2 separate regions of the Homo sapiens genome follow, and region 2 is linked to region 1. Evidence: fine-mapped expression QTL. Tissue or cell type: whole blood. Region 1 holds a variant in brackets; the other region holds the start of a gene. All regions are shown on one strand. Distances are between the middles of the regions.

Region 1 (5,153 bases):
AGGTACACAGAAAGCTATCTGTACTATATCTTGAATATCAGCATAGTACTCTTCTGATCTTTGTGCTCCCCCACCCCCACCTTTCTCTTTCTCTCTCTCTCTAAAAATGGATTTTGCATGCTTTTTTCCATCATAACCATGGATGCATATGTATCTCATTCTGCTCCCCAAAGAGTTAACATGAACAAGCATGCAATAGAGAAAGCAAACCAGGAATTCCCATGCCCTAACAACCCCAACACACAAATTCAACCATGTTGACAAAATGGGAAGGGAGATCCTGCCAAATTAATAAGAAAGAGAAAGTGGGAAGAGAGACAGTTTGTTACCGGGTCTCACCTGCCTTCTTTGTTCATGAATAGGTTTTTACTCTTTAGCTTCAACGTGGGCAACAGCAGTTAGGCAAGATTCACACATTATTTGAAATTGGACAAAAAGGATACAAGAGGCCGGCTATGGTGGCTCATACCTGTAATCCTGGCACTTTGGGAGGCTGAGGCCCAGCCTGGCCAACATGGTGAAACCTGGTTTCTACTAAAAATGTAAATATTAGGTAGGCATGCCTGTAATCCTAGCTACTCAGGAGGCTGAAGCAGGAGAATTGCTTGAACCCGGAGGTGGAGGTTGCAGTGAGCCAAGATGGCACCACTGCACTGGGCAAGAGAGCAAGACTCTTTCTCAAAAAAAAAAAAAAAAAACAAAAAAAACAAAAAAAAGATAGTTAAGAGAAATTTCCTAGAATGCTGTGTATACAAGCTTTTAATATAGTTCTATCAAAATTTAGAAGGAAACTGAGATTTAATTTTTTAATTAAATTGGATATGCAGCCCAAGAAAGTATACGCCAACTTTTTACTTGACTACACATTTCACATCTTCAGATAACATTCAGTAACTTTTTAATAACAACTTGAATACATTACATTTAAATATTTTGATTATTTGTAGACAGTCTTCCAGCAACATAATTAATTTCTTCCCTTCATCAAAAATCTGTAATGAATTATTCTTTCAACTAAAGATTTTCCTCAGCATAATAAGACTACATTTAAAATCTAAGAAGCAAATGCTTCCCTACTTCAAGCTTATTTTTAAAAGGAAGCCAAAAAATGATCTTTTCTGAATAAAGTGTTTCAGAAAGGCATAGAATACTTCAATATTATAGTAATAATTATTGTAAAAGGATAGAATTCATCTCATACCATTCTATTACGTTTCCCCCTAGAACAAACAAAATGTATCCTCCTGAGTTTAATTTCAAGTCTTTGAAAAGAATGCAGTCTTCAGAAATTAGATAGGAATTTAAGCTCTAATTCATAAAACATCACTTTCCTCCATGGAACTAGTTGAAGATTACATATTAACAGCACTCCTTTAATTTAATATTCTAAAAAAACAGCATCTAAAAAAAAAGAAATAGTGAGCAGGAGGCCGGTCTGATGACAAATTACATTAAACAATATCATTATCCTTAGCCCTCAGTGTTTTCCATTTTCCAGATGTTTAAAAGACACAAAATGAAAACTCTCAATTGCCCAAGAGGTAGATGATGAACTCATTTTCCAGACAGGAAACTGAGGCAATGAGGCTTTGCCATAAAGTATAAAAATGGTCATCAGCAGAATCAAGATTAGAAGCAGAAACACCTGGTTACACATTGCTGCTCAAAACACATCAATAGAATGTCAGGAATAACGTTGGTTCTTTCTTGCAACCTGTGTTCCATCTTGCTGTATGACATGCAGAGCTGACAAAAGATGGAAACTCTATTTAAAGTTGATGGCACATCTATCCTCCAATGTCAAACCCGTGAGAGCAACATGAGGAATGATTATTTACAATGACATCATCAGACTCAGGAACGTAGTCTACGTTGAAATTACACAGAATGCATTTCGGTAACAAGATCAAGACATGGAAAGCAAAATTAAAGGACAGCTAATGCAAAAATACAACATCAATTCAATAGTTCTACTGATATTCCCTACAAAGGGATGTTTTAAAATACAATTAAAAATATATTATTGAACAACCATATTTGAAATTTAGCACATTTCTATGCCGATGTCAGCCTTCATCTGCACGCCCTTAAATTAGGAGGGAATAGGCATAGAATAATTTTGCTGCATATTATGTTGAAAACATCTGTTTCTAGAGTACAAAAATCTGTTCTTATCCACTACAGATAATTTACCAAGCTTCTCAAATATATTAAACGCTCCAGAAAATTTGATTATTTCACCTAGCAGTGGTATTAGCCAAACAAGTATGGTGATCAGACTGGAGATACACTTGGTGGGAGATGCTTTGCAGGAGGTGCAGGAAGATAAACGGCGGCACTTTTCTTTAGGCACATGAGAATGATGTCCATTGGTGCCAACACCACAGTTATTGTGTGAGGAGCCAGTACATTAGGGACACACTAACATAGAC[G/A]ACACACAGGGTTATCCAGTTTACTCTTGTGATTGGCAGCCTGCAGTTACCTGTCACGTGGAGGATGACATTGGAAGAGAGAGCGCCGCTAGAGTTTTGGGCCCGAGCCACATAGAGGCCTGCGTCTGCCTTGCATACCTTTGGAATGAACACCGAATGCCTTGTCTCCTTGTGTAAAACCTGTAAGTGCCCATCTGCAGACAATTTCTGGCCCTTCTTGTACCTGAAGCAGAGAGGCAGTTTTTAAAGTCAGGATTGCTGTTTATTCACATTATTTCCAAGTTCTAATAATGCTTGCAAATAGGCCCATTACCACTGCAATATTCTCTTAGGATTAGTAGGAACCTTGTAGCCACAACAAATTCCAGTGGGGCTCTTTATCTTTTTTTCTTTAGTAGGCTAGATTGCAGTAGCAGAATCAGAGATCATTGCGGTCTCAAACTCCTGGGATCAAGCAATCCTCCCACCTCAGGCTCTCAAGTAGCTGGGACTACAGGCGCTTACCACCATGTGCAGGCTAAGTTTTTTATTTTTTATTTTTTTTAAGAGATAGGATCTCGCTATGTTACCCAGGCTGGTCTTGAACTCCTGGTTTCAAGCAATCTGCCTGCCTCAGCCTCCTGAGTAGCTGGTATTATGCGCTGTTTATCTTTCAAGCAGAAGTTGGCAACTGGTGGCGAGAGAATTGCTTTGACTGGCTCAGACAATGTTTTTGGAAAACTGAATTTTTTGAAATCCTTTAAAAATTGGAATATTGCATATGAAAATTCAGATATCCAGCTACCCCTAAAAACAAAAACAAAAACAAAGCAGACCATTTGGTCACACTAGGCCACCATTTGCTCATAGTAACAATTACCTAGGGTGTGAAATGGCACCCTCATGTTGTCCAGCTTTATTCTTTTTGCCACTCTGGAACAGCAGCTGTGACTCCTTATAAACTGCATGGGAGTGAGACTCATCTACCCCATCATATTCATACCACAGTATCCACAGGACAATACAGATGTGCTGTTTTAGAGGACTGTACTTAATATCACCTCCTGATGAGATCACTTCATTTAATTTTTTTGAAGCAATTTCATTAGAAGAAAATGACTTCTAATTATAAAAGGTATTTATGCAACTGTATTATGACTATTAATAACATATTTCTAGAAGGTTCCTATGAACATGAGTGCTTAACTGCATGGTTTTATAAAGAAATAATTTTATTTTGTATGTCTGAGATTCTTGTTTATTTATTTCTACCCACAATCTATCACTCAGGGGTGATGACAAATGTGAATCGTTTTCTGTTCCCATTGCCTAAGTGATAACTTTGCCTTTTCTTGGGTATCCTAAGAATGTATGATATCCTGAAAGCTTGTCAGTTATTAATTGAGCACAGTTGTAAATCTGACGACAAAACATTTGTTTACAACATTGCAATATTCTTCAACGACACGTATGTAGCAGTGCTTCTTTAACCACACACATACTAACCAAATTATTAATATTTACTGTGTGGACAAAAACAAGAAACACATCTGACAACATTTTTCTTTGGAGTGAACTGAGATTTAATAATGAATTAAATATCTTTAAAATTCATAAATATGACACTCTTGATTTGTAAAAAACATGCAACAGTAAAGACAATAAAACAAAAAGCAAAAGTGACTGCACTAATATAGCACAAGTGCAGTTTTTTAAATAATTTGAGAAACCAAAGTTTTCTCATAAGTTCCTTAGATAACTGGTTCATATTTCAAGTACCATCAATGGGCACACACAATAACTGAAACTGATCATTTAATATCTACTGAAACATTGTGATCAATAAATGCTATTTTACTTAATCTTAGTTTATAAGTATAAACTGGCTTTTGCAGATTTGTAACTTTGTCCTGAAATAAATTTACTTAAGGATGAGAATTTTCTAAATGTTTAAAAGTAACCCACATATTGAGAAAGAACTGCTTTTGTTACCAATAGTAGGTGATCCAAAACCAGTATTCTACAGTTTGCTTTTACTGAAAAAAAGAGGCTAAAAAATAATGATGTCTCCAGAGTGAAATCATATTGTTTACAGCTCAGTTATTATACTACCTTTCAAAAATGAGTTTATTGCCTGTCACCTGGAGGAACTGTGACAGAAATATTTATATTCCACCTCTCACATTGAAAAAATTTGTAAAAAGAAATCCTAGTAAAACAAAATGTTACAAAGATGACACGTGTGACTCTGTTGGAAAGAGGAAAAAGATGAAAGAGGTAAATGAGAGTAAAGGGAAATAAAAACAAATTCTTATATTTTCAATTGCATAAAGGTAGTTAAAGCAAGCAGATGCCATGCTTATATGGAAATAGACAATAAAAAATAATTTCAACCCACAATCTTTAGAAATGTGGAATGTTAAACACAGAAGAAAACAAGCACAACCAACCTACAGTGCTTTGGAAATTTGTTAAATTATTAGTACTTTATATGGTTACCTTTTATTTTTCTTAAAGGTATTAACTATGCTGCTACTAAAATGAGAGGGGTCTGATGTGAGATTGAATCATGCAGAGTTGCAGTGTCATAGAATATTAATCAGCTAGCCCTAAACCTTTCAGTTAGTGCTCACAGAATGATTTTTCTCTGTGATTGAATTTGTTTCCATTTATGGCTTGTCATTATAGGCTACCCACCATGTCAGTGTAGGCTCTGGAAATCCTGTTACTTCAACTTCCAAA
Region 2 (5,153 bases), 220 kb after region 1:
CGTGTAGGAAAATATTAACAAAATTAGATGCCTGTGACAACTGCCATTTGAGCACAGTCAACTTGCTTTCCACACAAGATTTACACTGCTCTAAGATATAATTTGTCATTGCATTTCCTGAGGAATTGCTTTTCTAAGAAGCAACAACTCATTAAGCAAAATGAACCACTAACACGCATACGCATGTAGATACCTGAATTACTAAAGAGAAATTAGAAAAATGTATTTCTATTTTAGAATATATTCAGTCCCCTGAGACAGTTTGGACAGTCACTATAAATCACACACAGGCACTTCCATTCCATTAAGGTGGACTTTATACTCTGAATTGCTTGGGGTGTATTTTGTATGGAGATGGCAGTAAGGTAAGAGGGCTGAGGAGAGGGTAGTGGGGGAACATTCTTAGAAACACAATTCAGTTAAAATAAGAGTTTCCAGTGTAATTTTCCAGTGTAATTTCCAGTGTAATTTTTTTGTGTTCAATCTACCTCTGATTCTTCTGTAATTTATCCTCTAATATTATTCCTCATCCTGCTCCAAGAATGTTCATATTTGAGGAAATGGAAAGTTAACTTTTTGAAAAATAGTGAGTTTGCCTCTTTTCCCTCATTGCTGAAATCTGCAGTTAACTCAAAGTATCATTAATCCCGTGCAAATGATCTGTTTGCCCTACTTCTGCATCAGGCTTCTTTTCATCTCCTCTCTGGGACTCTGAAAAGATGGGAGGGTGAGGAAGTCAGCAGAGGCCTGGTTCCTGTGGGAGAGAAGTCTCACAACACCAGAAAATCCACCTCGGCAGGAATACTTTCCATTCTGTCCTTCTATAGTGAACTGTTTTGCTCAGTATCAAGTGCTCTTTTCCTGGTATGAATTTTCACATTACCATAAAATTCACAGCAATTAAGTTAAAGTAAACATGGCTTGCTGTCCATGCTCTAACAAAAGGCCAGAAAAGTCATTCAATTAAACCTGGTGGGGACCTGAAAGTAACTGGTTTGTGACCATCAGCTTGTTTGCCAGCTTTCCCTTCATTAAACACTGAATTATTTAGGTGGAATATCATCTAAAGCCCAAGCCTAGTGCTTGAAAGCTTTTTTTTACAGGGCATTTCCATGGAGAATAAAATCATGGAGTTCTTCTTCAGCCTAAAGATGTGTGGTCATCTTTGCAAATGGGCAAATGGGTTGTCATAAAACATGCAGTAATTGTAAACCCTAAGTGGCTTCTACTTCCTGCTGTTAAGAGCAAATTTGACACAAAGCTTTTGTACCTTTCCTTGCATGGTCTTCGTTACTGGACAAGGATTTAGTAGTTTCTTTACCATGTCAAAACCAGTGTGGCAAAGGGCACATGTCGGAGCCCTTTACTTGGTGTTTTCTGAGTTCCATCGTGCTTAAAGCAGTGCCCTCCCCCTGTCTGTCGGGACCTGCCTCCTCCCACCTCCATCACATCCACTCTCAAAAATCACAAGCATTCCACAGGTCCATTGGACTCTTTAGTCAGGCAATCATGAACTTCCAGTTACCAATGCCTTGCTTTTAAAGACCAAATTGACAGTATATGCTAGAGGTTTTCTTTTCTTTATTTTTCTTTCTTTTCTTTTTTTTTTTTTTTTTAAATCAAGCTGCTATAGATGCTTTCTGGCTGACTGAAAGGAAAGAGAATCTCTGGTAACTGCTGAAACTTGTAGAGGTTTCTCTTAGTAGCCCATTTTAGAAAGCAGTAAGAGTGCTTGCTGCGTTGTCTTCTCTATGCTGTGTCCTGCCGATTGCATGGAATGTTCTTTAGGGTTTTCAACACACAGCTAGAAGCCCACAGCCGCACAGAAAAAAGGAAGTTGTTAGCTTACCTTTATGACAGCTATAACGATTTTGGAGTCCCCAGCCTGCACAGCAACTGAACTGACTGTCGTCGTAGAAAGCGCAACACTAGGACTTCCTTGGCTGGACATGGTACTTTAGAACCAGAGTTTATACTTTGGGCAGCCTCTGGACAGTTGTGTGTCTGCTGGTCATTTCAGAAGGCCAGGGTTACTTGGATTCATTCAGGGAAAGAGCTCAGCTCACACTGATTACTCTGCCAAAAGGAAAGAACAGGAGGTTAAAAATAGACAACCCCATTGAGTTTATCGTGAGAGAGAAAGGAGCGAACGAGAGAGAATTGCCACGCCCCTAGTATGGTGACACTAAGTGCCTGTTATTTTTGCTGTTATCTTAAATGTGGAGGACAGCTTCAAGCTCTTTCCTTATCAGCTGATGTTTGATAACAAATGGAAAAAAAAATTACATCCTGACAACCCAAATTAGTTTTGCCACCGAAACTATGCCATTGTAACCATGGACTTTGAAACAAGTAAGTCTTTGACCTGGTTATCAATCTTTTCAAGATTTTTGAAATCTCTCTGATGCAAAGAGAACTACCAAAGTGTACTTTAAAAAAGTTTTGGTATTTGTCTTGGGGTTAAGTCACAAATTGCTTAAAACACATTTTTAGATTAATCTGCTTTTCTAAAACTTACTGTTCTTTGCTAAATGAAGTTTAGATGGAATAGCCACATTTTCTCAGAGCCTCAGATTTCTTAGGAATTTTTAAAAAATATTTCAACCAGCATTTATAAATAGGTGCCTATCATTTCAGATTTTCTTTGTGACTATTCTGCTCCATTGGACAAGGTTTTCAAGTTCAGTTATTAATACCATGAGAAAGCAAAATACTTTGCTGTTACCTTTTAATTGCAGCAAGAAAATGTTTTCTGTGTGGTTAAAAGTTATTAAGACATATATTTTGCTGCAATTAAAAACAAAAACAAAAAGGAAAGTACTGTGCTTCAGGCTTTTTATTCCCTACCCCCACCTCCTGTTCAGGAAAATTATAGCCAGCTTCAAATCAGTGCCCCACATTGGTAGATTAATCCTATTGCTAGAAACTCAGCCTGTGTCACAAGTTGTCTGTGGTATTAAACAGCAGCTGTTGGATTCCCTGTCAAAGAACAGCTGAAAATAACACTAAAGTTTAGGTCAGAAGTCAGATGCAAACATATCAGAGTTACTAACTCCAAAGCTGCTGGAAGCATTGGAAATCTCTGGGACAAAGCCACAACAGAGAATATAGCAAAAAACAGTTTTAATGAATCCACTTGCTCTGTAAACCTTTTAGCCCAATTTAATAGTAGGTTCAGGTTCAGGGCCAATGTTTAGAAGACTGAGTCAGCTCCATTGCTTTGTTTTGCTAAGGTTCATGATCATATTCTTGATTCAAAGGGGAAAAGTACTTTTACACATACTTCAGTGTTCAATTATTTTTGTTTCCAAGAGCATGTCATGGCTGCTCTGCAGCTGTGTAGCCACCACCCATGTCCTCTGCGCTCAGCATCTGCCTGCTGCCCCAGTGAGATGGAAACCATACCTAGATCCTAGTCCCTATGCAACACGAACTTCACCTGACCCCATGAAGGGAACAATTGGAGCGAGCTCAGGAAAGCAGATGCCGAGCAAGCTATGATGTAGCAACTATTGCAAATGGTTTCATTTTATGGCAGGGCTGGAGAGCTTGCAAAGAGGTAACTGACCTGGAAGGTTGCAGGCAGGCTCCTTCTTTCACTTGCATCTGTGTGAAGAGACCACCAAACAGGCTTTGTGTGAGCAATAAAGCTGTTTATTTCACCTGGGTGCAGGTGGGCTGAGTCTGAGAAGAGAGTCAGCGAAAGGAGATAGGGGTGGGGCCGTTTTATGGGATTTGGGTAAGTAAAGGAAAAAGGGGGGTTGTTCTCTGGCAGGCAGGAGTGGGGGGGTCACAAGGTGCTCAGTAGGGGAGCTTTTGAGCCAGGATGAGCCAGGAGAAGGAATTTCACAAGATAATGCCATCAGTTAAGGCAGGAACAGGCTATTTTCATTTCTTTTGTGGTGGAATGTCATCAGTTAAGGCAGGAACTGGCCATCTGGATGTGTACACAGGTCACAGGGGATATGATGGCTTAGCTTGGGCTCAGAGGCCTGACATTCCTTTCTTATATTAATAAGAAAAATAAAACGAAATAGTGGTAAAGTGTTGGGACGGTGAAAATTTTGGGGGATGGTATGGAGAGATGATGGGGGATGTTTCTCAGGGCTGCTTCGAGCGGGATTAGGGGCGTCATGAGAACTTAGAGTGGGAGGGATTAAGCTGAAGGAAGACTTTGTGGTAAGGGGTGACATTATGGGACTGTTAGAAGAAACATTTGTCATTTAGAATTATTGGTGATGGCCTGGATACAGTTTTATATGAATTGAGAAACTAAATGGAATAAGAGAGGGAGAAAAACAGGTATTAAAGGTCTAAGAATTGGGAGGACCTAGGACATCTGATTAGAGAGTGCCTAAGGAGATTCAGCATAGTCCTGCCGGCAAAGATTATTTATTTACTTCAAGAGTTAAGAGTGGCAGTTTGGGGATAGCACCAGGAGATATCAGCTGTGATGGCTTGGAGAAACAATGTAAACCAGCAGTGTAAACAAGAGCAGAGCATGTATAAGTAGTTGAGAATGGTGAATAGGAGTATGACTAGACAGAAGATAGTAGGGATGACAAGATTTTGGGGGCAAAATCTAAGTTGGTCTGGTGTCTGGAATGAGACTGGGGCTAAATAAAAAGGAGCGTCCACACAGGAGCTCAAATGGGCTGTACCTTGTAGCATTCCGAGGACAGGCCTGAATTCTGAGAAAAGAAAGAGGTAAAAGTATTGTCCAGTCCTTTTTAAGTTGGTGGCTGAGCTTAGTGAAGTGTGTTTTTAAAAGACCATTAGTCCGTTCTACTTTTCCTGAAGACTGAGGACTGTAAGGGATATAAAAGTTTCACTGAATACCAAGAGCCTGAAAAACTGCTTGGCTGATTTGACTAATAAAGGCCAGTCTACTATCGGACTGCGTAGAGGTGGGAAGGCCAAACCGAGTAATTGTGTCTGACAGAAGGGAAGAAATGACCGTGGTGGCCTTCTTAGACCCTGTGGGAAAGGTATCTTCCTATCAAGTGAAAGTGTCTACATAGACCAAGAGGTATTTTAGTTTCCTGACTTGGGGCATGTTAAGTAAAGCTAATTTGCTAGTCCTGGGTGGGGGCAAATCTCTGAGCTTGATGTTTAGGGAAGGGAAGGGGCCTGAATAATCCGAGAAGTAGTAG

Evidence for each region. PIP is the estimated chance that this variant, and not a neighbour inherited with it, causes the effect.
Region 2: CCDC141 starts here. The variant in region 1 is fine-mapped to the expression of CCDC141 in whole blood (TOPMed, PIP above 0.99). The same link has a PIP of 0.9 or more in blood mononuclear cells.

What each region holds. Positions count from the first base shown.
Region 1 is chr2:178,831,786-178,836,938 of GRCh38, forward strand. CCDC141 (coiled-coil domain containing 141) reads right to left here. Exons shown (of 24, transcript NM_173648.4): 23 at 5,109-5,153; 24 at 1-2,655. The coding sequence ends at 2,388. Among named protein-coding and RNA genes, the nearest start is that of TTN, 27 kb to the left of the region's middle. The variant G/A (reference allele first, on the strand shown) is at 2,433.
Region 2 is chr2:179,047,991-179,053,143 of GRCh38, forward strand. CCDC141 (coiled-coil domain containing 141) reads right to left here and starts at 2,147. Exons shown (of 24, transcript NM_173648.4): 1 at 1,850-2,147. The coding sequence starts at 1,951. RefSeq lists enhancers at 1,644-1,693, 1,884-2,133, 2,144-2,223.